Regions from separate parts of the Homo sapiens genome. Here regions 2 and 3 are each linked to region 1. The links come from fine-mapping of genetic effects on gene expression. A gene starts in region 1. Each other region holds a variant in brackets. All regions are shown on one strand. Distances are from middle to middle. Region 1 holds the start of SMARCD3 (SWI/SNF related BAF chromatin remodeling complex subunit D3). Region 2 has its middle 25 kb from the start of SMARCD3. Region 3 holds the start of DRC11L (dynein regulatory complex subunit 11 like).

Evidence for each region.
Region 2: its variant is fine-mapped to the expression of SMARCD3 in whole blood (TOPMed, PIP above 0.99).
Region 3: its variant is fine-mapped to the expression of SMARCD3 in whole blood (TOPMed, PIP 0.99).

What each region holds. Positions count from the first base shown.
Region 1 is chr7:151,245,045-151,253,214 of GRCh38, forward strand. It overlaps SMARCD3 (SWI/SNF related BAF chromatin remodeling complex subunit D3), which reads right to left and starts at 3,650. Exons shown (of 13, transcript NM_001003801.2): 1 at 3,441-3,650; 2 at 416-627. The coding sequence starts at 3,518. RefSeq lists enhancers at 1-168, 169-742, 743-1,317, 1,318-1,891, 7,171-8,080 and silencers at 405-704, 725-804, 1,879-2,173, 4,221-4,310.
Region 2 is chr7:151,269,841-151,278,010 of GRCh38, forward strand. It overlaps a transcript of SMARCD3 not described here. Among named protein-coding and RNA genes, the nearest start is that of SMARCD3, 25 kb to the left of the region's middle. RefSeq lists enhancers at 4,830-5,629, 7,783-8,170. The variant C/T (reference allele first, on the strand shown) is at 4,069.
Region 3 is chr7:151,202,944-151,211,113 of GRCh38, forward strand. DRC11L (dynein regulatory complex subunit 11 like) reads right to left here and starts at 2,553. Exons shown (of 19, transcript NM_001304419.2): 1 at 2,501-2,553; 2 at 1,566-1,893; 3 at 452-571; 4 at 1-153. The coding sequence starts at 2,511. It overlaps ABCF2-H2BK1 (ABCF2-H2BK1 readthrough), which reads right to left. Exons shown (of 17, transcript NR_160983.1): 17 at 4,894-5,164. H2BK1 (H2B.K variant histone 1) reads right to left here and starts at 7,545. Exons shown (of 2, transcript NM_001369125.3): 1 at 7,244-7,545; 2 at 4,894-5,164. The coding sequence starts at 7,375. The coding sequence ends at 4,928. The variant T/C (reference allele first, on the strand shown) is at 3,171.

The DNA.
Region 1 (8,170 bases):
CGGGGGCCGGCAGGAAGGCTCAGCGGAGAACCACACTTTGGGGAACACAGTCCTACACCTCTGCCCTCAGTCCCACTGGAAGCCCCGCCCCCACCCCAAAGACTGAAGCATCACCCAGAACCTGATGGGTGGAGAGAAGGACTGAGCAGGTGACAAGGAGAAGGGTGAGGGGAGCGTGCAGGGAAGCGGTACCGGCTGCCGACGCCGCAGCCTGTCTCTACCGTGGGCACACAAAAGAATCAGGCCGGTGCCCCCTAAGCCTACCTCCCCAGAGGGCATTCGACCCGGGAAGCCTCGCTCCCTGCTAATCATTCTTCCTCGCCCCTTCCAATCCCCGCTACTCGCTTACCTGGTCCCTGCGGGTCCCCCAGGGCCCGCCCCTGCACGCCCCCTCCTCGCCGGGCCTCCCACTCACCTGCGGCTCCGCGCGGGGGCGGTGGGCACCGGCTGGCCCTGGCTCTGTGCCTGGCTCTGCCCGGGCGGGGGCGCTGCTCGCTTGCGGGCGGGCTCCATGCCCGCGGGGGCCAGGCCGGGTCGCACGGCGGGGCTGCCCATGTACGGGGAGCCCGGGGGGCCCATGGGCGCCCCCTGGTGGGGCATCCGGGCTCCAGACGGCATCCCGGGGCGCTGGGGGTGGGCGGGGGTGAAGCAGAAACGGGCGCCCGTGGGTCAGACCAGGGCCCCCCGCTCCAGGCGCGGTGAGCCGGCGTCTCCCCTCCCCCACCAGACCCTCGGCTGGTGACCCTGAGCGTTGAGCGATGGGTGGGAGCGATGGGTAGGAGGGGCAGGGGCGCCGGAATCTGCGCGGCTCTGGCGGAGGGGCTTGGCGTCTGGCTGCAGGAAGCTAACTGAAGCCAGGCACCGCACAGGGCATTGCGAGCCTCGGGGCTGCGGAAGGTACCGCAAAAATGAATATTAATGGCGCCTTTCAACCTTTCAAAGATGTTCACATCCACATGCTCCTCTGCAAGACAGCCTGAGCAGGTCCTTTCATCCCCACTTGACGGATGGGGCCACTGTGGCTCAAGGAGAAAAATGACCTCGCCAAGGTCACACAGCTCATCCTGGCCCAGGCAGCCCCTGAAGGGCTGCCTCCTGGGGGCCCAGGGCTTTGCTCTCTGCGGCTTGGTTGAGGTCCGGTACCCGGCTCCCTGCTCCGACTTCTGCTCCTCCTCCTGCTCCTCCTTCTCAGGCTCCACTTCTTGGGCGGTTCTGCCTGGTACTCACTAGCTCATCTCAGCCACTCTGCTCCCTGTGTCCCTGCTTTTGACCCTTGGGTCCCAAACCCCACTCCCCTCGGCTGACTCCAAGTCCCCACATCCAGGGTCTTCGCTGACCAAGCTGCCCCCATAATTTGCTCCCAGGGTGAGGGCTGGAGGCAGGGCAGGCAAGGGCAGCCTGCTGGGGCGCCCCAGACACAGCCAGGATTCTCTGATTGGGAGGAGGGGAACTGCGTTAGAGGTGGGCTGCCCAGGGGGGCCTGGGGTGGGTCAGGGCAGTGACACTTGCACTCACATTTCCCTTCCTGTCTGCCCAGGTCAGCAGCCACCTCCTCCTCTTCCCATCCCCACCCCAGTGAGGTCAGCAGTCAGGGTTCATGGGGGCTGTGGAGACTGAGAGGAGGCGGCTCCTCCTCCCTTGCCACTACCCCTGGGTGGTCAGATGGGGTGTAAATGAGATGCAAATGCATCGAGCGAAGTGTTCCAAACCCCACTTGTCCAGACTCCAGAAGGGAGATGGGGAGGGCCAGAGAGAGTTTCAGGGGCTGTGAAACAGAAAGAGCGGGGTGGGATGGGGACTGGGACCACGAAAGCAGGAAGAAGATCAGAGGGCAGGGGATGCAGACCCTGGCACTGTTAACATGGACACACCACCCACCTCACCCCCAGGCATGAGGAGGGGCCCCCTTGGGCTTGCTGTTTTCCTTCCAACTGCTACCTCTCCCTCCTGGTCCTCCAGGCTCTGTGTCTAACCCTAATGTCCTCCCACCCTCGGTCAGCAGCTGTCTCTGCCTATCTCTCCTGCAGTGAAACCTGCCTGTCCATGTGTCTGCTTCCCTCACCCCACCTGACCCTGTCACTCAGGCCTCCAGGGTAGCAGCCCAGAATGGAGCCCAGGCCTGGCCACCAGCTAGGTGGGGCACTGGGGCTCACAGCCACTCAAGAACTGAAGCTGTAAGTTGACCAGATTAAAAAAACAGTCCACGTGTACAGCCTCTCCCCACTAGATGGGCCTTTTTAAAGGGGCTCCCACCAGCAGCCAGGTTAGGACTGGTAACTCAGCTAGCTGACATGGACACCTTGGGAAGTTACCCCCAGGGGTCCCTGGGGCTGGAGGACAGGCCACTCCAGGGAGTCCCCCTCTTCCTGTCAGCTGCTCTCCCCAGTTATCAAGGCCAGGGATACTGGCCCATCTGCTGAAGAGGCCCTGAGAGGGAGGCTTTCAGAGCCCCCAGAGAGCTGTGCCCGCCACCAGCCCCATCCCCATGAAAGGCCAAAATCCTAGGGACTCTGGCCTTACTGAGAGGGTGTCTTCCTTGGGGTCACAACCAAATTTGGCCATAGTAAACCCGACAGCTTCCTCTACACAGGGCCTCCACTCCCTCACCCATCCCAAGAGTCGCAGCCCCTGCTTCTCCCATTCCCCACCCCTCCATACCCCTCCCAGCCGGGCCCTACTGACTCAGCTCCAGCCTCCCGGGCTCCCACGTGCCTTCACAGCCTGCCTGTGGCAGGACAGTGCTCCCCTGTCCCTTCGGTCTCTAGGCCTCATGTCCCCAACTCCAGCCCCTTCCTTCACATGTTCGAGGAGTTAAGGACATCAGCTTCTGGTGGCTGAGTCCGCCAAGGAGACCCTCAGAGCCCCTAACTTGGGCTAAGTCCCTAGAGCGGTCCTCTCCCCCACCCTAAGGCAGAAGCTCCAGAGCCCTCCCGCTGGGATGCAGAGGTGGCTCAGCCTGCGAGCTTCCCGCTACAGTGCCTCCAGGGTCACCTGCTCCTTGCTCCGGAGACACAAGCAGTGACACTGTCCCAACGGATGAACAGACAGCCCAGCCCAGCCTCTGCCATGTCCCCATCCCCCACCCCCACCCCCAGGGCAGGGGCAACACCTGGGCCCACAAGGAAAAGAACGAAAGTCAACCTGTCGGCTACAGCGAGGACCCCCTACTTGGGGGGTAGAGTCCCCAAGTCCCACCCCCGCCCCTGACAAGAGCCATGCAAACGCCTCCCTTCCCCGCCTCGCGTCAGACCCGGCCGGCCGCCTGGCGACGTGTTCGGGTGCCAGGGCGCCAGCACAGTCCCGCGGCCGGGCCGTGGGCCATGACGCCCCCCACTAGAGGGGTGGGAGAGCGGGAGCGCCCTCCCGGCCCCTCCCGATCAGCCCTCCATTCAGCCCGAGCCAGCTCGCTTGCCCTCCCCCGCTAACTTTCCCCCACTCACCACCCCATGGACCAGAAACTCAAAAAGTTTGCTTTTCGTGGCTTTGCGCGCCCCTCCGGCAACTTCGTCCGCGGCCATCGGGGTGGGCTCAGCGGCTCCTCTCACTCTCTCTCTCTCTTCCTCTTTCTTTCCCTTTTCTGCCTTTTTTTTTCCTCCAACTCTCCCCTCTGAGTCCTGCTGGGCTCTCTCACACTTCTACTCGAGCGGAGTGGGGAGGGGGCCCCTTCAGGGCTGCCCTGACGGCCCACGGCCCACGCCGCCGCCGCCCGCCCGCCGCCGCCGCCGCCGCCGCGGCTGCCGCATTCCTGCACTGATAAGACAGAAATAGTCCGGCGGCCCGGGGTCTGCCTGTTGACTCGGCGGGGACGGGGCCGCCTGCCTTTCCAAGCCCGCTGTCCAAACAGCGCAGATAAGCGGCGAGGCGCGCCGACCAGCCCGGCCGCGGGCGCTGGGCAGCAGTGCTGCAGCCCGAAGCCGCCGAGGCCCGCGGGAGGCGGCGCGGGGAGGGGACGCCAGGGGAGGCGGCGGGGGGTCGCCGGCCACCGGCTCTCGCCACAAATAGTTTCTCCGTCAGGGAATTCGCCGGCCGCGCCAGGCAGGGAACAGTCAGTTCCAACTTTTCCCCCAGCGGCTCCTGCTGCATTTCTGAGGCCCTTTCCCCAGAGACCTGGCAGGCCGAGCAGGGAAACATTCGCTGGCAGGAACCGGGGGAGCCCGGCCCGCGAGGCCTCGCGCCTGCCCGGGGCCGGCGGCGGTGGGTGTGCCCGGGCGGCGGCGTGGCCCTGCGTCCACTGCTGTGTGTGCCCTTGTCTCACACGCCGTGTGTGTCCGCGCCCTTTTGTGGCGTGGCAGCTTATGTGCGTGCAGACAGACGCCCTGTATGTGTGCCTCCCTCCACGACAGCCTCCGTGCGCGCGCGCCTGCGTGTGTGGCAGGACATGGCCTGTGCCTTTCAGCTCTGTGAGAGGCTATTTCTGGGTATGTGAGTCTTTGTTTGCCGCTCTGTGAGAAAGTGAGGGCAATAGGGGAAGTATTTCAGAAAGAGGGACAGGGATTGTGCTCATGAGAACAGGAAGAGAATGAATGTGGGGAATGGCGCAGCGCCAGGGGGGTGCTCGGGTGGGTGCGTGGAGAGAACGAGGCAAGCTGGGCTTGGTTTCCTTGGGGTGGGGGTGGAGTGGGGTTAGGGGACCCAGAGGAGTTGGGGCAGCTGGGCTGGGTATAGTGGGTATATTGGGCCGGCCTCAAGACCCCAAAGAGAGGGGTCTTGAGGCTGGGGTGTGGCGTGGGGTGGCAAGGGAGCCCCAGAAGGGGCGTGTGGAAGGAGTTGGCAGTCCCTGGAGTGGAGGAGGGACCGGAAGGAGGAGGGGCAAATCCTGACATACCCAGGCAGGGAGTCCTGGGCCTACCCAGGTCCCCAAAGGCCACGCCCCTTTTTTCTCCTTCTTGGGGAGGAGCCGTGGGCTTTGGAACAAGGCCCTTGGGTCAAGTTTGGGGGTCTGCTGGGGCCTCACTGTGAGAATCCAGGTGAGGGCAGGACCATAGCCTAGTGCCTAGGGGAGTTTGTTGAAACACTTACTTGAAGTTGGGCCCTGAAGACTGAAGGGTACTGACCCTAAACCCTTCAGAATGCCTTTGCCCAGGGGGTCCTTTCTGCCTGCAGCCTGATTTCTGCTGGCCCTGGTTGTGCTCTTGGCTGTCACTGTTCATTTAGGTGCCCACTGTCAATCTGAAATGTCAGGGAGGACATCTGGTCCAGGTTGCTCCTCCACCACCCCTAGCTTGAAAGGGGACCTAGAGATCCCCTTGCTACCAAATCTCTCCCAGGGCTTTAGCCTAGACTACCCCCCACACACCCCCACACACAGAGCCTGGGCCCTGACACGGTGGGGATGGGTGGGTGGCCTGCCTCTGTCTGCCATAGGTCATGCTGCTGGGAACCTGGGGAAGTGACTTGCCCAGTCTGCCTGCTAACCTCCAGAATCCCCGCTCACTCCCATTTCTTAGCCCCTGCCCCCGATTCTTTTACCTGGAATGCCCTTTGCCTGCCCTCTGCCTTCCCTCTGCTTGTCCAAATCACACCTATTCTTTAAAGCCCAGCCCAGGCCCCACTTCCTCCAGGAAGCCTTCCTTCGTCCTACTTGTATGCAAAGATTTTTCTCTTCTCCAAATGCTCATTGCCATCTACCCAGCACCATGAATTGGCATTGGACTGGCCTGACGTGCACTGTGCTTCAAGGACATTAGCTTTGCTTTCCCAGAGAGGCTAAGGTCCCCATAAGGTCAGAGACTGATCTTTAACTCCCACTCTTCCTCCATGCCTGGGCACAGGAACTCAACAGTACCCCAGATACCTGATGCTTGCAAAGCTTAATGAGCCAATGCATGGAGCTGGTACTCTGCCATTTACCTGATGGTGTGAGTTACCATGGGCACCCCCACCCACCATGGGTGCGTCTAGCAGGGGCATGGGAAACCACAGGCCTTGGAGGTTCTGGGGGTTGGAGATAGACACCCCTAGGCTTTGTTAAAGCTCAGTGTTCTCAACTATTGGAGAGACCTTTTGGGAAAAGAAGACAGCAGAGGAGATGCTGGGCACTCCAGTTTGGGTAGCTGGGAAGTTTGAGGCAGGGCCTGGGAGATCCCGGGCTTGGTCTTGGTGGTGGAAGAGGTTGCGGGAGGTAGTTAGACGAGGGGCTATGGTGAAGCCCCTGTGGAGGAGCTGGTGAGCTTCACCCAAGTCCATACATAAGCGCTCTCCTGAGCCACCCCTCTGGGAGACATCCTTAAGTGTACACAGACAATAGATACACCTTGCACACACACCCTCCCAACACACACACAGCAGGCACACCAATACAAGCACCAAAAGGTCGAGGAAGCCACATGGCTCTGCACACACAGGCACACCTTGAGCACCTCCACATCCCGTGGTGGGCCCCATTCACAAGGCAGGCCCAGACACATTTGCGTACTGCTTTTAGGTGGGCGACAGGAGGAGCCTTCAGACCAGAAAGCTGGGGCGGCGCCAGTGTGGGGGCCCGGGCCAGGGCTCCCTCCTCACAAAGGCCAGGATCCCCAGTGGCTTAACCCCAGAAGGGCGCTCGGTGTGCCACGCCGCCGATGGCTCCTGCGGGTGGGAAGGAGGCCCGGGAAGAGCGTGGATTCCTCCCAGCGCAATAGGGCGCCCGCCGCACTTGGGGCAGGCCGTGCGCCTGTCGGGGGCGAGGGCGGCCGCCCGGCGCCCGGCGCCGCAGTCCCCCCTGCCGTCCCCCCATCGCTCCTTCCCTCGCTGAAGCACCACCAGCACCAAATGGCAAAGCGCCGCTCCCCGCGCAGGGAGAGATGCGCCGCGGCCTGCGGGACGGGCTCGGCCGCCTCGCCCCCACCGCGCCCGAGCGAGCGGGCGGCGGCCGGGGAGCTGGGGGGGCTCGGGCCGGCCCGGCCCGCGCCGCCCCTCCCTCCGCCCGCGCCGGTCCCCGGCCTGGGCATGCGCGCCGCGGCCTCCCTCCCGGTGAAGGTCAGCCCGGGGCCCAGCTGCAGGACTCCGCGGCGGCCGGGGAGGCGGCGGAGGGAGGAGGGATGCGGGGAAGAGACTTAACTCCTTCCCTGCGGGAAGATGGCCACCTAGGCCGGGCCCCAGCCGCAGTCCCGCCCTCCTGCCCTCCGTGAAGGTCCCACCACGGGGACTCCGCTCGGGGGGCGCGGCAGGAGGAGCAGGAGAGCGGGGAACATGGAAGAAGGGGCTGGAAGGAGAGAAGAGAAGCTGGCGAGGGGATAGGGAGGAAGGGAAGGGAGGAACAAAGGAAGCGAGACTGGAGGGAGAACGGATTGCTTGGGAGAGAGCTCTTTCCTCTATTCCCTTTTCCCTACACCCCCAGCAATAAAGCTCTCCTTAGGAGAATACGATCACCCTCACTGGGGCGGCCTGAGTGAGTGTGTGTGTGTGTGTGTGTGAGAGAGAGAGAGAGCGAGAGAACGCGAGAGGAGAGGGAGAGAGAGAAAGAAAGAGAGAGGGAGAAAGTGAGACCACTTGGCGCTGTGAGGACCACAAAGCCTTGGTTTCGGTGTTCTGGCCATCTCTAAACCAGGCCCCACTTTCCGCCATCCAGCCTACCTGCCCGGGCTAAGCACCAGCCTCGGGGGACCTCTGGCTAGTCCTTGGGGTCACGCCCAGCTCCAGAGAGGGAGGAGGGGAGACTACCTCAACCCCCGCCTCTGGTGACGGTCAGCAGAGGGGACGCTCCGAAGCCAGGCCAGGGGCATCAGGCACCTTCCTCCTCCTCCTCCTGGCTGCCCCCATGCTGCTTCCAGGCCAGGGCAGCTGTGCGCTTCCCTGTTTGTGTTGGGATGTTTCTGTACCCCCGACACTCTCTGCTGCTATCAAGGGGGCTGTCTCTCTGTGTGACTTTGTCTTTCTGTGTCACTTTTGCAAACATACACGAAAGAGACAAATGCAATATATAGAAGCAAAAAACAAAGAAAAACTAGGACACCAAAATAATGGTGCGACCTTGGGCAAGTCGCTGTACCTCCCTGTCCCTCAGTGTCCTCAGAAGTGAAAGGAGAGGCTTAAGTCAGAGCATTCCTAGAGCCCTTCCAGCTCTGAAATCCAAGAATTTCCTAAGACAGAGGCAGGAACCAAGGCAGACTGGGAGGAAGGAGGGGGACAGAGGGAGGGAGCAGAGCGACGGAGCTGTGCCGGGAAGCAGACCCGCACCGAGTGAGTG
Region 2 (8,170 bases), 25 kb after region 1:
TGATGTCCCATTCTACAGATGAGACATGTCACTCAGAAAACTGAGTACCCCTTCCCCATCTGCCTGGCTGGAAAGGGAGAGCTCACCTTCTAGCACAGGCACAGGTGGCTCCAAGTGTGGGCCATGGCCTTGGGGGATCTTCAGCGCTCCCCAGGGGGCACGAAGGCTGGGAATATTTGAAAGAGCCAGAGCTGGATGTTCCGAGCGGAGACAGAGCCTGTGCGAAAGCTGCCTCCAAATGTTGAAAGGTGGTCAGATGGCTTGGAGGGAGAAAGGGGTTTCTCCCTGCAACTCCAAAAGGCAAACCCAAGGTCAGAGGGAGTGACATTCTCCCTCACCATAGGAATAACTGAAGAGGGAATGAGCATGGAGCACTCCTCCAACCACGGAGTTACAGGAGGGAGACGCGGGGCACAGGGCAGCTCAGGCGACAGCAGGACAAGGTTGGCAGGCAAGAAAGGCCCACTCTTGCATCGTGGTGGTGTAGAGAGGGTGAGGCTGACAGCACCAAGAGGGATCTGGGGCTCATTTTAGAATCAGCCGTAGAGCCACCCCCTCTCTGTCCACTGCCTCACACATTTGCTCATTCATTCAAGAAATACTTCTCTGTACTGTGTGGAACAAGACAGATGCAGCCATGCCTTTAAGGAGCCCTGCAACTCAGTATTAGCCTCTTTGGTAGGTGCTGCAAGACAGAAGAGAGTGGGTGGGCCTTCACGCCCAAGCCGGGTGGGAGAAAGCCTCCCTGGAAGAGGTGGAACTGACGTGGAGGCTTCAAGGATGAGTGCAGTTAGCCAGGTGAAGGGAGCTGGGAAGGGTGTCGGAGGTGCAGGGAACAGCATGTGTGAGGGCCCTGAGTGAGGGCACGAGAATGAAGCCACTAGGAAGTGGAAGGCGGAACAAATCAGATTTGTGTTTAGGAAGCCCATTCTCGTTACTGTGCTGGGCCGGGGTCTGATGCAGGGACAAGGCTGAGTATGCGGCACTCAGATGGGGGCAGAAGATCACAGTGTGTGGACCAGGGCAGTGACGTGGGAAATCAGAAGCAGATGGAATTGACACTTATCTAGGAAATAAAATCAAATAAAAGGATGTGGCAGTTGTTCCAATGGAGAGGTAAGAAAGGGGGTGGACTTGGTCACTTCAGGTCTGGACCTGAGCCTCAATATCACTGTTTAGCAATGTGGCCCATCCACCCCACTGCAGAGGGGCCCTACTCCCTTGTCTTCATGTGTTCACAAGGAAACATGTACTGTATTCCCAGGAGAGGAGATACTGGAATGACCCTGGCCCTCTCCCCACCCTTCCTCCCTGTGGGAGGAGGCTTTGTCTGATGAGGTGGTGAGGGCCTGCACCAGCCGCACAATCCCTTTCCCAGGCGGGTGGGGTGAAGGTGCTGAAGGCAAGGCTGCTTACCCTGTGGCCAGCATTCCTCTTCTAGACGAGTCTGTTTTAGGACACAGATCATCTCCTTCTGTTCCCATGCCCAGGTAAGCAAACCCAGGTTAGGGAGTAGGACCTGCCTTCTACACTTGGGCCTCAGGTTCAAGCCTCTCTTCAGCTTGAATTTCCTTGCACTTAAGTTAACTGATGCCTGTGCCTGTTTTTCCATGGGTTCAGGACCTGTGGGGAAAGACCAGGACTGGTCCCTCCTCATACCCAAACTCACCTGTGGGGCCTGTGTGCTTAAGGAGCTCTTTATTTCCTATAAGGATATTACCCCTACCTGGAGAATGTGACTCTGTACTTAATTTCCAATTTTAAATAAACCTTCCTGCTGCCTGATATTTATCAGAAACATTGTTGTAAATATCAATATAGAGAGTATTTCCTGGCCAGGCTCGATGGCTCATGCCTCCCAACACTTTGGGAGGCTGAAGTGGGAGGATTGCTTGAGCCCAGGAATTTGAGACCAGCCTAGGAAATATAGTGAGACCTCATCTCTACTAAAATAAAAACAAAACAAACAAAAGCTAGGGGGCATTGTGGCTTACGCTTGTAGTCCCAGTTACTCAGGAGGCTAAAGCAGGATCGCCTGAGCCCAGGAGTTGGAGGCTGCAGTGAGCCATGATCACACCACTGCACTCCAGCCTGAGCAACAGCGTGAGACTCTGTCTCTTACAAAAGAGAAAGAGGGTATTTCCTGAAGGTAGCAATGCATTCCTCTAGTTGCTCCAAATTTTAAGTTTGGGTTAAGCAATATTACCAGTAGGTTTATGGCTGGGGAGTATTGTGTTGGTCCTTGCCTTAGCCCTAGGAAGCAGTTGTGACATTGTTGAGAACATTGCATAACTTTGTCACATGGTATCCCCTTCATTTCCTCATACAGGAGAGACCTCCCAGTGGCTCGGGACCAGAAATCACGTGATTTGAGCAAGTTGTTTGATTTTTATCTCATGCACAGTGTAAATCATGTAACTGCTTGCTTCTCTGCTGGCATCGGGGTCTCTGGGCCTCGTGGTTTGCATTTGGTGCAGTAGCCACATCCTAGGCAACACCATGTTTTCTCTACTCTATCTCTGTCTCAGTTTCCTCACTATATGTATCTTTGCAAACTACCTGAAACCCTTTTCAGGATGAGGCGGAGCATAAGAACACCTCCCTGTGTCTTCCTCTCCCTCCCTTATGGCACAGTGTCCCTCACTCTAGGGCATTTTCCCAGAACGATCTTCAGTCTGGGAAAAAGGTTCACATGGGAGATGGTCCAAGTTTGTAAGTTGCAGTAGGAGGCCTGTGTGGGGCGCACGCTCATGAGGCACGTTCTCAAATCCCTGGAAGTAAGTGTAGAGTGCCAAGAATCGGTGTCACAGCTTGGAAAGTCAAGAAACCGAACGCGCTATCCCAAAATGTGGGCCTGGCTGAAGTGATCAGCCCTCCTCTACGGTCCTTTATGAGTCACCAAGGATTCCCACACCCCTCATTAGCAAGGAGCACAGGGGGACACAGCAATGGTCCCTACAAGATGTCCCTCAGCCAAGTACCCGTCAGAGGCAGGCGGTGGCCTCAGCTTGGCCCCTCTGGTACAGCAATTCCAGATGGTTAGGAGTCCAGCCACAGCTGAGGGAAGTCCACTCATCCCCGATGGGTGGCTCAGCCTCCTCCCAGTGACACCTCTAGCTCATTATCTCCACCACTTAATTTTCACTAATCATGAGCACTCACTTGCAGTCACACCGCCAGTTTTGGGGTGAGGACGGACGCCTAGGCACCAGCACCAGGGCCTGTCAGCATCCAAATGCCCAAGTGCCTGCCTGGCTGCCAAGAGCCTGCAACGCACACCGCCGATTGCATGTGAATGCAACTCCAAGATAAGATGCCAAACTTCCACCACCTTGTCACTCTTGGAGCTGGGGCTTCTGACTCATGGCCAGGGTCACTCTGGGGCCAGGTGTCACTAGGATGGACCTACTGCCCCAGGGCTCCAGCTCCAATCTTCACAGGCCTCCTCTGCCCTCCTTCCCCTGTGCCCATCCTGCAGTGACCCTTCAGGAAAGGTCTGGAACAGCCCAAGGCTCCCTCCGACTGCTGCTGGGGAGCCCCTTAGGGCCTAACGAAGGGCATGTCAAATATTAGGAGGACTCTCCACGTGGGGGACCACTTCAGGTGCACCCCTCCAGGAAGCTTAGCTGCCTCCCATCAGCCTGCCCCCCGTTCAACCTGGCCTCTAACCTCAGACACCCCAGAACTGTAGAGTGCTTGGTTTAATATACTAGTTCTCACCTTTTCTTTATGAATTTCAGCTAAAACACCAACCACCACAAACTGAGCAACCAGTCCCCAGTTCACCTCAGGTGCTGGGGAGGTGTTGGGGATAAGGGTGGGACGTTTGCTTGGAGGCCTTGACTTTCCTGCAGGTGGACTGGGGCTTCAGGTGTGGGGCTGGGCATGCCGCCACCAGGTGTGTTTCCTTGGTGATGGGTACCAGGTGACTGGTGCCTGCTGCTGCCCTGTGTGGCTTGGATCCTCTGGGCCAGGCCAGCTTCCCCAAAAGCCGGTGCCCTGCCCCATTTTGCCCTGGGCCTGCACCTCACTGGAGGAGGAGGGGCACTGGGGCAGTTTGAAGGGGAA[C/T]GGGGCTGTCCCTGGCCTTCAGAGCAGCCTGGCAGGAGGATGAGTTCCTCTGCCCACTTCTGAGGAAGGAGAAGCAGAGAAAGCACTTTCATTCTGCCCACAGCCCCAGGCCTCCCCGAGCCTCAGGCTCCTCTGGGCCATTTCCAATTGCACCTTTCCAGGACTTTCCTGATGTCTCCCTCCTCAGTGCTCTGAGGCCTGTGTGGTCTGTGGCCCTTTGTGCCCAATTGTCAAGGCTGCTCTCCAAGGCCGCAGGCCCTGAGGACAGGGACTGGGCTCCACATACCTTGAGGCCCTGCCAGTACCCACCCTGTTGCCAGGTGCCTCCCACCGGTGAGGCCAGCCAGCGTGATGATGGGTGGGGCTGGGCAGGCAGAGCTCAGACCAGACTTCAGTTCCGACCCCTTACCATGCCAGCTGGGGCTCTGGGGCAGGTGGCTTTTCTGCCCAGAGCCTCAGTGTGTCCTTCTGGACAAGTGGGGACTGATGCGGACAAATGCAGACCATCTTCCTCTCACTCCTTGAGGAGGAGGCTTAGGAAGGCCCTACAAGCAAGCAATGGCCCAGAGTGCATCAGAGCTAGAGGTCCGCCTGGGGCAGGGCAGGGTTGGCTCCCACTGCGGGCTGTGCAGTAGACGGCTGCCACCTCCCTCCTGCCACAAGCGGAACCCTGCCTGGGGCCCTGAGGGTTTTTAGAGGTTTCTGAGCACAAGTTGTGCCAAGGAATCAGCAGGTTCCTTCCAGCTCGCAGAGAGCATGTGGTGTGTGTGCATGTGAGCATGTGCACGTATGTGCACGCTTCTTCATGTACGCAGTGAGAGGAGATGGGGTGTTGTCTGGCTGTCTAGGTGGGGAGGAAGTAGAGCATGCCAGAGCCCAGACCATGCTCACATGAACCCAAAACTTGGTTTCAGGTAGCTTGTCCCTGGCTCAGAAAGGCTTTGAGAGGCAGGACCTAAGGACACCAGGAGGTGAGAGGACACGCAGGAAAGGGAGTGTGGGATGGAGGGAAGGACATTAATGACAGGTGTCAGCAGGGGTGGGGAGAGGGACAGAGAGGCCCTGCCATGGGCACTAAGGAGTCCAGCTGGGGGCAGAAATGCCGGGAGGGGGCCATGTGGTGGGAGCAGGAGCCGAGGGCTGGCCGACTCGCCATGGGGCCCCAGAGCTTCTGCTCCTGGGCTGGCAGGGGAGGAAGCACCTACCTGTACCACGGTGGGTGGGTGCTGAAGACCTGGAGTCATAGATGGCAGGGTCCTGCACCTGGAGAGTCATCCAGTGCCCCCTCGGTGCCTGGGCCCGGAGCCCACCGCGCCTGCAGCACCAAGGGCCATTCTGAGGATCTGAAAGGAGAGGTCAGACCCTGAGCCCCAGCGTAGATTCAAGGAGGCCTCGGGAAGCTGCGAAGAAGCCAAACTCCCCGGAGTGGAGGTCTGAGGAAGCCAGGACACTGTGCAGAAAAAAGGGCCTAGGATGGAGGCAACCAGCATGGGCCAGCTGGGGCTGGGGTGGCACAAGGCAGGGCGCAGGTGGGAGCAGTATGTGTGGGAAGCAGACAGAGACCGGCCCCAGGGTCCTGCGGGACAAAGAACTTGAAAGACAGAGCAGGGACCCCAGGCAGAGCCCAAGCCCTGACTGGAGAGGCCAGTTTTGGGGGTGTGGCAATGGTTGGAGGGAGAGAGCTGGGCATTGGAGGCAAAGGCCAGAGGGCAGGTCAGGATGGTAACTGGGATGGCCCTGGAGCCCAGGGGCATGGAGGGACTCCAGAGGTGGCAGGCAGGTAGTCAGCCTGCTCCATGACTACCAGCTGGCCTAGGCGCCTCCCTCCTGGTCCCTGCTAGTGCCTGCTCTGTCCTGTCCTGCCCTGCTTCCTTCCTTGCTGGAAGAGCAGGAAGGCCTCCAGCTCGTTGGGTCAGGACCCAACTTATGAAATGAAGTCCCTGAGCAGACGGTGGGGCATGGGAGCTAAGAAGAGAGCAGTGCTGTAGGAGCGGGGTGTGGGTGACAGAGGTGGGGCTTGGGAGTGGCTCAGGGTCTGGTTAAGCCATGTGAGCAAAAGAGGCTGCTGCCCATGGATCAATCCTGAGCAGGGTTGGGAGGAAAGGGGATGAGGAAGGAGGAGGCTGGAGACAGGGAGTGCTGGGGATGGGAGAGCTGGTGGGGTCCGGGAGACAGAGTGGGAGGGGAGGATGAGGAGAGGAAGATGCGGTAGGGGAGGGGCTACCAGTCCAGGGTCGGGGGGGAGGTGCCCTGCAAGAAGGTGGGGGACAGAGGGACAACCTGAATAGGAGAGGGGTATCCAGGGAAGACGGTGGCCAAGTGGAGACAGAGAAGGTGCCAGGCAGGGGAATGATGGGAAGGTGCTAGGTAGGGGAAGGAGGGAGAGGATGCCAGGCAGGGGAAGGAGGGAAGGTGCCAGACAGGGGGAGTAGGAAGCAGAGCATGCCAGGCAGGAGCAGGTTGAGAAAGTGCTCGGCAGGGGGGAGGTGACAGGCAATGGGAGGAGGTGGTGCCAGACAGGGGGAGGAGGGGAAGGTGCCAGGCAGGAGGGTGCCAGACGAGGGAAGGAGGGGAGATGCAGGTGGAGGGAGGATAGGAAGGTACTGGAGAGGGAAGGAGGGGAAGATGCCAGGCAGCGATGGGGAGGAGGTGGTGTCACAGAGGGGCTGAATGGGAGTCTGCCAGTCAGGGAAGAGGTGCAAGGAAGGGGTAGGAGGAAGAGGTACGAGGTTGGGGTGGGGGTGGAGGGAGGTGCCAGGCGGGGGGACGGAAAGAGTCAGGAGTGGGGGGAGATACCTGGAAAGGAGGAGGGGAGGAAGATGCCAGGAAGGGAGAAGGGGATGCCAGGTAGGGAGGAGGGGAAGTGCCAGGTGAGGAGAAGGTGCCAGGCAGGAGAAGGAGGGGGGATGCCTGGCAGTGGGAGAAGGGAAGCCAGGCAGGGGGAGGAGGGGGAAGCCAGGCAGGGGGAGAAGGGATGCCAGGCAGGGAGGAGAAGGGATGCCAGGCAGGGGGAGGAGGGGGATGCCAGGCAGGGGGGAGGAGGAGGAGGAGGATGCCAACAGAGGCGAGCAGAGACTGCCAGGCAGGGAAGGCGGGGGCGCCGGCGCAGCGCGGCCGGGAGGCGCCTTCGCCAAGGGCCGTGGGGGCCGCGCGGCGCGGGTCGCTCACCTGCTCCCCCGGGACCCCGGCCCGGAGCGCGGCCGCCCGCTCCCTGCTCGGCGCTCGGCTCGGCCCGGCGCCTGCGCCGCTGCAGCCCGGAGCGGGGGAGGCGCAGGGAGCGTCTGCAAAGAGCGAGGAGCTTAATAATGAGTTAGGGACCGGAGCAGGAAGCGTCGCCCCATCCAGCCGTCGGTGTGCTCGCCAGCTCGGAGGCCCTCGGCGGGCCCTGGCCAGACCCGTTGTGATCTTCAGCCTGTACACAGATGTGTCGTAGGCCTGTGCTTGCATCTGCACGCCCACGAGTCACACACGCAGTCAGCATCCTGTGTGGCCGCAGACATCACCTACACTAGGACCACACACGCGCATGCACGTGGGCGCGCACACACAGGCACACAAACGGTTGTCCTCACACAGATTCAGTCAGATCATCCTATGTGGCTGCAGACATTACCTAGACGAGGTCCCGGACACCCATGTGCACCCCCCACCCCCTCAAAACGCACATACCCTGGGAGGCTTTGGGTCCATCAAGCCTCAGGGCCATGTTCTCACTAATGCCAATCTCCTCCTTTTATGTACTCAATACTTAAATTTGGCAGCTTGGAGAAGCCTATTCCCAGCTTCCAGCCAGACAAGCCCAGCTCTGGCCATCTCATGGGCTCTTCCAGGGCCCCGCCTCACACGGCTGAGCTACCACAGTGCCCAGCACAGAGGGGGACCCCAGCCTACCTGCAGAGTGAAGGAGCCCTAGAGAGCTCAGGCAACGGCGGGGGAAGTGGGAGCACCTCCCTAAGCAGCCAGCGGGCAGGGAGCCTGCCAAGCATTTGGGGCCAGGTGGGCCTCGTAGGCCCCCAGTAGGAGGCAGGCAGGCAGCAGGGACCCATGGTCTGAGGCTGAGGTCAAGGTCAGGTCCTTCTCCCTCAGGTTCCCGTCTCTGCCC
Region 3 (8,170 bases), 42 kb before region 1:
GAACTTGTGCCATCCATCCTCCCGAATCCTCCCATCCTGCTCCTCATCTCTTCGAATCTCTCGCATGAAGGTGGCTCGAAGCCGGCCTTGCCTCGCCCGCTCTGCCTTTTGCACTAGAATTATGGCCTCAGTCCGGTGCATTCCTGTAAAGCTCTGGCCAGAGCAGGGGCAAAAGAGCAGGAGCACATGAGGGAGAGCTTGCATCCAGGGTGGGCCGCTGGGAGACCAGCCATCAAAGGATGCACCAGGACACCATCCTCCCAGAGTATCTGGGAGGCCAAGTCTTGTCTTGGCGTTGGAGGGTTACCATCAGCAGAAGAACAGCCTTGAAGGAGGCCAGGGATTACCTAAAGGGCACTCTGGTAGAGAGCAGGGAGGGGCCTCTCTGCATTCTGGAGTCTTTCAGGAGATGGGGTATGGAAGAGTCTGGGAGGGTGTCACCCCCGTTTACCTTCTGGGAGGACACTGGCTCCAGTCTGGACAGGATCTCGGCCAGTATCAGCCCTCGCTCCCGCACAGTGGTGGACTGCTCCAGCAGGAAGTATTTGGGGATTGGAACCTCCAGGTCAGCCTTTGGAGCAATGTTGGGGGAGGAGGGTCAGGAATCAAAAGTCTGAGCCATCTGGCCGATCCGTTACCATTTTTAGGGGCTTACACACCCCCAGCACTGTTTTCCTCCATTTTAGAGTCCTGACTAAACTTAAAGGGTAATGGGGCAGATACCCCCAAGAGCCACTCCTCTCTTCCTCTGCCCCCATCCTCTGGCTGGAGTTGAATTCTGGAGGCTCATGGTAGGTGGCAGTGGTCTCAGACCTGGTTGTGCATCACAATCAACTGGGAAGCTCTTAAATGCAGATTCCTAGGTCCTCCTCAGACTACTACATCAGAATGACAGGACCTGGGGAATCTTCCCTGCGCCCCCACCCCCGACCAAGTGCACTGCTGCAGCTGGTTGGGGAAACTTTGAGATAGTCTTGGATATGAAGCAGTTACTGAACCCTGAGCCGGACTGGAGGCGCCGCAGAAGCTCTGTGCTCTAGAACAGCCTTCTAGAACTTGCCCGTGCACACAGATCACTGGAGGGTCTTGATAAAAATGCAGGTGCAGATTTAGTGAGTTAGGGATTCAGAGTTTCTCATTTGTGATGTCAATGCTGCTGGTCCAGGGACCACACTTTGAGGAGGCTCTAAAGGACTCTCCTCACCAATTCCCTGCGGTTCGTGGGTCTTCCCAGTCATGCAGGGGACCTCACCCTGACTCCATCCAACCTCTAAGTACCTCCATGCACACCCCCCACCGCCAAGGTTCCTGAAGCCCTTCCTACAAGGCCAAACCCCATCCTCTGATCTTCTCTGCCCTCCTTCCTTTCCTAGCAGTTGTCCCAACACCAGGGATATCCGTGGGGTGGCGGGTAGGCAGGGGTGGTCGGCCCCATCCCTACCCCACCCGACCCCAAGCTGGCCAGGGCGTGGCTCTGTGTCCCAGGTGGTCAAGGCCGGTCCCACCCCACCTCTCCCCTCCCGCTAGCTGGCTGGGGGCGTGGCTTCGCGGCTGCGCACACGTACTGGGGTGAGCTTGAAATCCTGCAGCACGCGGTCCAGGCAGTGGTTCTCACACAGGTCGGCGCGCACCAGCTCGTCCTTGAGCTCCAGCACGCGGCCCGCCACGCCGTCCAGCAGGCGTCGCAGCAGCCGCCGCTTCTGCGGCTGCACCATCTGGTCATAGACGGTGTCGAAGCGGCGCAGCAGCCCCAGGTAGTGCAGGTAGAGCGATGCGAGCCTGTACTGGAAGGACTGCCGCTCCCGGTCGGGCGCAGGTTCGAGCAGAAGCTGCTCTTGGTCCAGCAGCTCCTGCAGGGTCGCGTGGGAGGACTCCCAGAGGCGCTGGTAAGCTCTGGGGAGAGGGTGGCGGGCGCCGCGTGCTCTGAGCCACGGAGGAGTGGGGAGACGGAGCAGCCTGGCCTTTTGAGGAGTGTGGGCTCGGGGTACCAGAAGGTGTGATGTCACTCATGGCTCCTAAATGGACTTCAATGAGGTAAGGAGCCCGCAGGGCAATGAGTGGACACCGACCTGGTCTTAGGGAGAGTGTGGGATTGGGCTCCGCTGTAGGATTAGCAGAGAGAATGGGCATGACCTTTGGGGGTTTGGGGGAAAGCCAGCCCAGGCTTGGGGCTCTGGTAAGGAAGGGGTCTTTGGGAGTCAGGGGCAGTGGGGCCCTCCAGGTGTGGGGCAGCCCACGGATGCTGCAGTGATCTGGGCTGGTGGATGGGAAGTGGGGGTGAGGGATGAATGTGGAGGAGGGACCCTTCCCCAAGCAGAGCCCTGGTTCTGGAATTAACCATCGGAGGGAAGTTTCCACAGTGAAAGCTGCCAGGGCAGCAGCAGCAGCTGGGGTGGCCCAGTGCCCAAACCGCCACTCTGCCCCTGCCTCTCAGGACTAAGGAGATGCTCTGCCCTTTGCTGTCTCTGCCCTGGGAGCCCCACTCCAGCCCCTCACTCACCCCTCAGACATTGTGTCCACTCCTCCACGCTGCCCCTTGTTTGCTGGTGGTGGAATTCACAGAACCTCTGTGGCTCCCTGACTTCCAGGGCCACAGGGCAGAACAGCCTGTTTTTAAGAGTTCTGACCCATTGTACCAGTGTTCTAGGGCTGAGGCGAGGGGGCTGGTGGGTGCAGAATCGGGGACATTTATCTCGGAGGACGTCCTGGGAGCAGCGCGCTGAAGGGACTGTGGGTGGGTGGCTGCAGGCTCCCGCAGAGCAAGCTTTGGAAGCTTAGGGCAGAACATGTTGTCCAACTTTGGCCATTTTTCTTGTAAGGAACAAGTAAAATAAGTTTCTATTTGAAGTCCCCTGAAAGCTTTGGCGCTCTGGATACATCTGTCCTAAAGACATTACCCCCTAACAAGGCATCACCGCAGCTTCTCACTCTCAGCGGCCTCTGTTCCTTCTCTCAGCCCCCGCCTCCTGAGCCCCACAGCCCTCCTTCACTCTCTGGATGACAGCACGGGGAAGCCCATGTGGTGGAGGGGAAAGGCACTGATTTGGAGTCAGAAGGCCCTGAAGTCCCAGTTGCCCCCTTGGGTGAAAGTGAGCATAACCATGCTTTCCTCCCTGGGGCCTGCCAAGAGTTCACACCATTCCCATGAGCCAGACCCGTGTGAAGCATCA[T/C]GCTAGAAAGTATAGTGGATGCTGTTCTGCATGCTTGGGGCTTACTTGGTCACCTGTGGGTACCACCTCCCGTCACTGCTACAAGTTCAGGAGATAATTTTTCCAAAAAGACAAAATATTATACCACTAGCAGCCTGAGGCTGGTCAGCTGGGGTGAGCTTTTTGGCTCAGTGTCACGTCGAGGCTTATGAATAAGTAAATCTAAGAGGAACAGGGCCAGGGAAACGGACAGAAGGGAGATAGCGGCAAGGAGGAGCAAAGAGGAGGAACTCGAAGGTGCCTATGAGCTACCTGAGGGTCTCATTAAAATGCAGATTCCAGGCTGGGCGCAGTGGCTCATGCCTGTAATCGCAGCACTTTGGGAGGCCAGGGCAGGCGGATCTCCTGAGGTTGGGAGTTCAAGACCAGCCTGGCCAACATGGTGAAACCCCATCTCTACTAAAAATATAAAAATTAGCCAGGCCTGGTGGCACATGCCTGTAATCCCAGCTACTCGGGAGGCTGAGGCAGGACAACCGCTTGAACCTAGGATGGGGAGAGGTTGCAGTGAGCAGAGATGGCACCACTGCACTCCAGCCTGGACAACAAAGCGAAACTCTGTCTCAAAGATAGATAGATAGATAGATAGATAGATAGATAAACAGATTCTGCTCCAGATCTGAGGGGGGACCCAAGAGCCTGCCTTTCTAACAAGCTCCCAGGTGCTTTGGCTCCTGCTGGCCCGGGTCATGCCTGGTAGGGCAAGGTGTGAACACAGGGCAGAGTGGGCAGGAGTGAGACTTTGGGGCCAGATCTCCTGGGCCTGCCTCTTGCTAACTGTGAATGTAAACGTGGATCATTAGTCCTCAGCTCACAGAACCTCAAGGTGAGGCTCGAGGTATGAGAAAATACACGTGACCTAGGTAGCTGCCGCTGAACGTCAGCTATTACTACAAGGCGATGCCTTTTCAATATGTGGAGATGAAGGAGACCACAAGCCAGGTCTGTCCAATTACAAACGGCACAAAGGATTGGAGGTTTGTCTAAATCCCACCCCTTCATCTTGTCCAAGCTTGGAAGAGGATTTATGGGTCATGTGCCCACAAGATAAGCAGAGGCTGCATGAGACAGGAAAAGCAAGTGGTTAAGTGGTGAGCAGTAAATCTAGGTAAGGACATAGGCGTGGCCGTGGTGCTTCTTGCAGTTTTTCTGTGGGTTTCAAATTTTTCCAAATAAAATTGGTGATGTTAGGAGTTTCAAAAACATCCCCACTGATTTGTTCCGAAATAAAGGGGAAACTGAAAAATCATACTGATCTCAGCAGGTTATTTAGAAGCCGATCTGGGCCTTCAGTTTTTATATCTTGAATAGATCTGTGTGGCCCCTTCACACAACAGTGCCTGTCGTACAGGATGCAATGACAGTTGGTGGGAAATGACATCGCGAAGACACAGCCTGAAAGAGGACCATACAGGAGGAATTTCAGGCCCCAAGAGGGAATCAGCTGGCGGTAAATCCAGATGCTAGTCCAGTCCCAGGTCCTATTTCAGCTCACTACCAAATAGAACATTCGCATGTTTACAAAGCTATCACACGTTGCTCACGGGATACACCTAGAAAGCAGTTTCTAAGACATCTGAAGAAGTGCTGCTCCACCTGTGGTAGCCTCGAAGTGAGGACACCCTGGCTCCAGACCACACCCTGGCCTCACACACCCTTCTTTCAAATCACCACAGGGCACAGAAACAGTTCACCCTTTATTTTTGTCAGGCCCTGGGTCACTTGGAGCTGGTGTACTTGGTGACAGCCTTGGTGCCCTCAGACACAGCGTGCTTGGCCAGCTCCCCAGGCAGCAGCAGACGCACAGCCGTCTGGACTTCTCGGGATGTCAGGGTGGTCCGGCCCGAGTACTGGGCCAGCCGGGCAGCCTCACACGCCAGCTGCTCAAACACGTCGTTTACAAACGAGTTCATGATGCTCATGGCCTTGGCAGAGATGCCAATGTCAGGGTGCACCTGGAGAGAGGGCAGCACCACTCGGTTAATGGAAGGGGCCAGGGGAGGGGGGGTCCTGCCTACACTGCAAGCCTCAGCCCTGAGCTGGGGGCTCTAGGAAGCCAGAGGCAGAAGGCAAGGAGGCTCCTCACCAGCCCCTTCCCAGAGGCCAACAGTCATGGAAATAGGGATTTGTGTTTTCTTTGTACTGCTATGGTATATCTAAGTTTTTTAAAAGAAGTTTTCAACTGCAGGAGGTAACATGATTAAGCTCCTTGTATGAGCACACACAAGCATCTGTATTTAACAAATGGGACCAGTTACACATGCATCTTGCTGGTTTCACTGATGCATTTGCATAGTGTTCCACGGTATGGATGTATCATACTTCCTAACACCATTCCTCTCTTCACGAATATTCAGGATTTGGGTTTGGGGTGTTTTTTGTTGTTTTTGCTATTAGATGGTGCTATGGTAAATGCCCATCTTTGAATCTTGTGCGAGCATAGGGAAGGTTATTTCCAGAGGCGGGACTGTAGTGTCAAAACGTTTGTGCATATAACTTGGTGGAGCACATAACCAGTGAGCCTGTCCATGTGACACAGTCGCAGCCCCGGACCAGGGGAGGAGTCCTGTTCTGCAGCTGTACTGTGAATCCCTACGACCTCAAATACGGCCCTTTCCTCTGGGCCTCAGTTTCCTCTTCTGTCACACAAGCTTTTGAACTAAGTGATCTCTACTAAAGCAAATGGGAACTGATGGCAGTTCTAAAATGTGAGTAGGTAGACCTGGTCAGATGTGAAGTGGGAGAGAAGTGACTGTCCCACAACCTACATGGAGTCAGAGATGAAAACAGCACTAGAACCAGGAGGCTCTGTCCCACCCGCCCTCCCTGCCACCTCTGGTCTCCACTGCCAGCAGCAAATCTGCACCTGGCACAAGGCTAGTTCTGCCCAAACCCCCTCTGCTGTCAGCACACCCCGTTCTCCTTAGAGCTCTCACCCAGATCAGGAGGTTGAGGGGTTGGCCCTCAGCAGCACTCTCCTCTGTGAGTACAGGCCTTGTCCCACCCATCAGTTGCAATTTTTGCCCCTCAAAGTCGGGCTAAGACACAAGGCTCAGCGATACCCACTCCTACCCCACCTTCTTCAGGGCACCAGAGTCTGTCCTCTGGTGCATCTCTTCAGCCAACCCATATCAGTGCTGGACCCACCCACCCCCAACCCCACAAGAGCATTCCCAGGCACCCAGGTTGTCAATTCACTAAACCGCTAATGGGATTTGGACTGGAGACAGGCATTACCTCTGGGGCCTGCTCTAACAGAGGGGTAAGAGTTTCAAGCAGGTTGGAGACCCAGGGCGGGCAACACATGGCTACCCCCGCCTCCTCCTGGCCTTGGCCCTGCTGAGCAGCAGCTTTGGATCCTCCAGACAAATTGATTGTCAGTGTTCCAAGTCCTGGGAGTAGCTGCTTTTCGTGCATGAATATAGGGCACCTGCAGCCCCAGTGTGTTGGGGAGACGGACACACAGGAAGGATGCTAGGGGCTTGCCCAGAGCCAGGGGAACTGGGACACTGCCACTGTCAGGCCATGTGATGCAGGAACCCCATGGAGCCTTTAGGGGCCTCAAGCTGTTTGTCTATAAGGTGGACAAACCCTAAGCCCCTCAAAGAACTGAGTGCCACTTGTCCAGAAGACCTTCCCCAAGACTCCAGTTCACCCTGATCACTCCTCTTCTCGGTCACCAACACACTTTGTATCATAATGTGTTTGGCACCTGATCACCTTCAGCCTGGCATAGAAAGTGTGGTCCTCTTGTCCTTTAATTATGTCCCACCTAATCACGTTATCTCATCATCGTTCCCGTAAACTTCTGGAGGGTGGCAGGGAGCACGCTTTGTCTCCTATCACCGGTGCCCAAGATCCTGAGAGAGGTGGAGACCTCAAAAACCAGGTCCCGCCACCTCAAGAGGGGCCAGGCCTGCCTGAGCCACTTGCCCCAGTGCCAACACTAACCTCAAGGTCCCCACTTCCAGCCAGTGCCCTTTCAAGGCGCTTTGTGAGGGCATCCCTCACACACATCCTTGCTATGCACTCACCTGCTTCAGCACCTTGTAGATATACATGGAGTAGGACTCCTTGCGCCGACAGCGCTTTTTGGACTTTTTGTTCCCAGAACTGCGACCCCCACGGCCCCCGGGCTGCTGCCGCTGTCCATACTCAGCGCTCATCCTCCTGCTTCTCGAATAGCCCTCACCCACCCCCTTGGAGCTACTTTTTATCAAGTCAGCTGCCCCACCAGGTGTGGCTGGGGACATGCACCTGGGAGGGGGGGGGGGGGCAGGTGGGAGGTAAGGGGCGTGACTCAATCCCAATCCTGAACATGCTCTGGGCTAACCTTGAAAAGAGACTAATTGTTCCTTCCTCTCCCACAAGTAATCCCTCTGAATTAAGAAACCCTTCACCGGGTCCCCTCCCCCACCCAACCATCTCCCAGTGTATTTACGCACTTCTTAAAAGTTCAGGCAACTCCAGCCCACCAGCCTGTAATCACGGAGCACACAGGTGCCAGCACAGCTCAGAGTGCTGCAGACTCCAGAAGGAATGCAAGCTCCCTCCCCCACTGCGCCCCAGTGGAGGTGAAGAGACAAGACTGGTTCACATCAAACCACCAGAGAAGGGTGAAGGGGCTAAAAGTGGTGGTACCCATGGTGAGGAGGGCTCGAGTAGCTAGAGGCCGCTTCTTGGTACAAATGGGTATATGAAGGGTATCCTTCATATACCCATTGTAGGATGTATCCTTGTAGGATGTATCCTTTAATTGGGAAGAATGAGAGAAAGAAACGGTGTGAAAGGTAGAGTGGAATCAGTGTGAGCGGAGTATAATGAGGCTTGGACTGAAGGCAGATGAGCAAAACGCCTGAGCCTGGACTAGATGCAGATAGCAGAAGCTCCCCAGGTGGTGAAGAGGCTGACAGGGAGGAAGACCACTGGAGGAGGTGAGAAGCAGAAAAGCAATAGGTGCT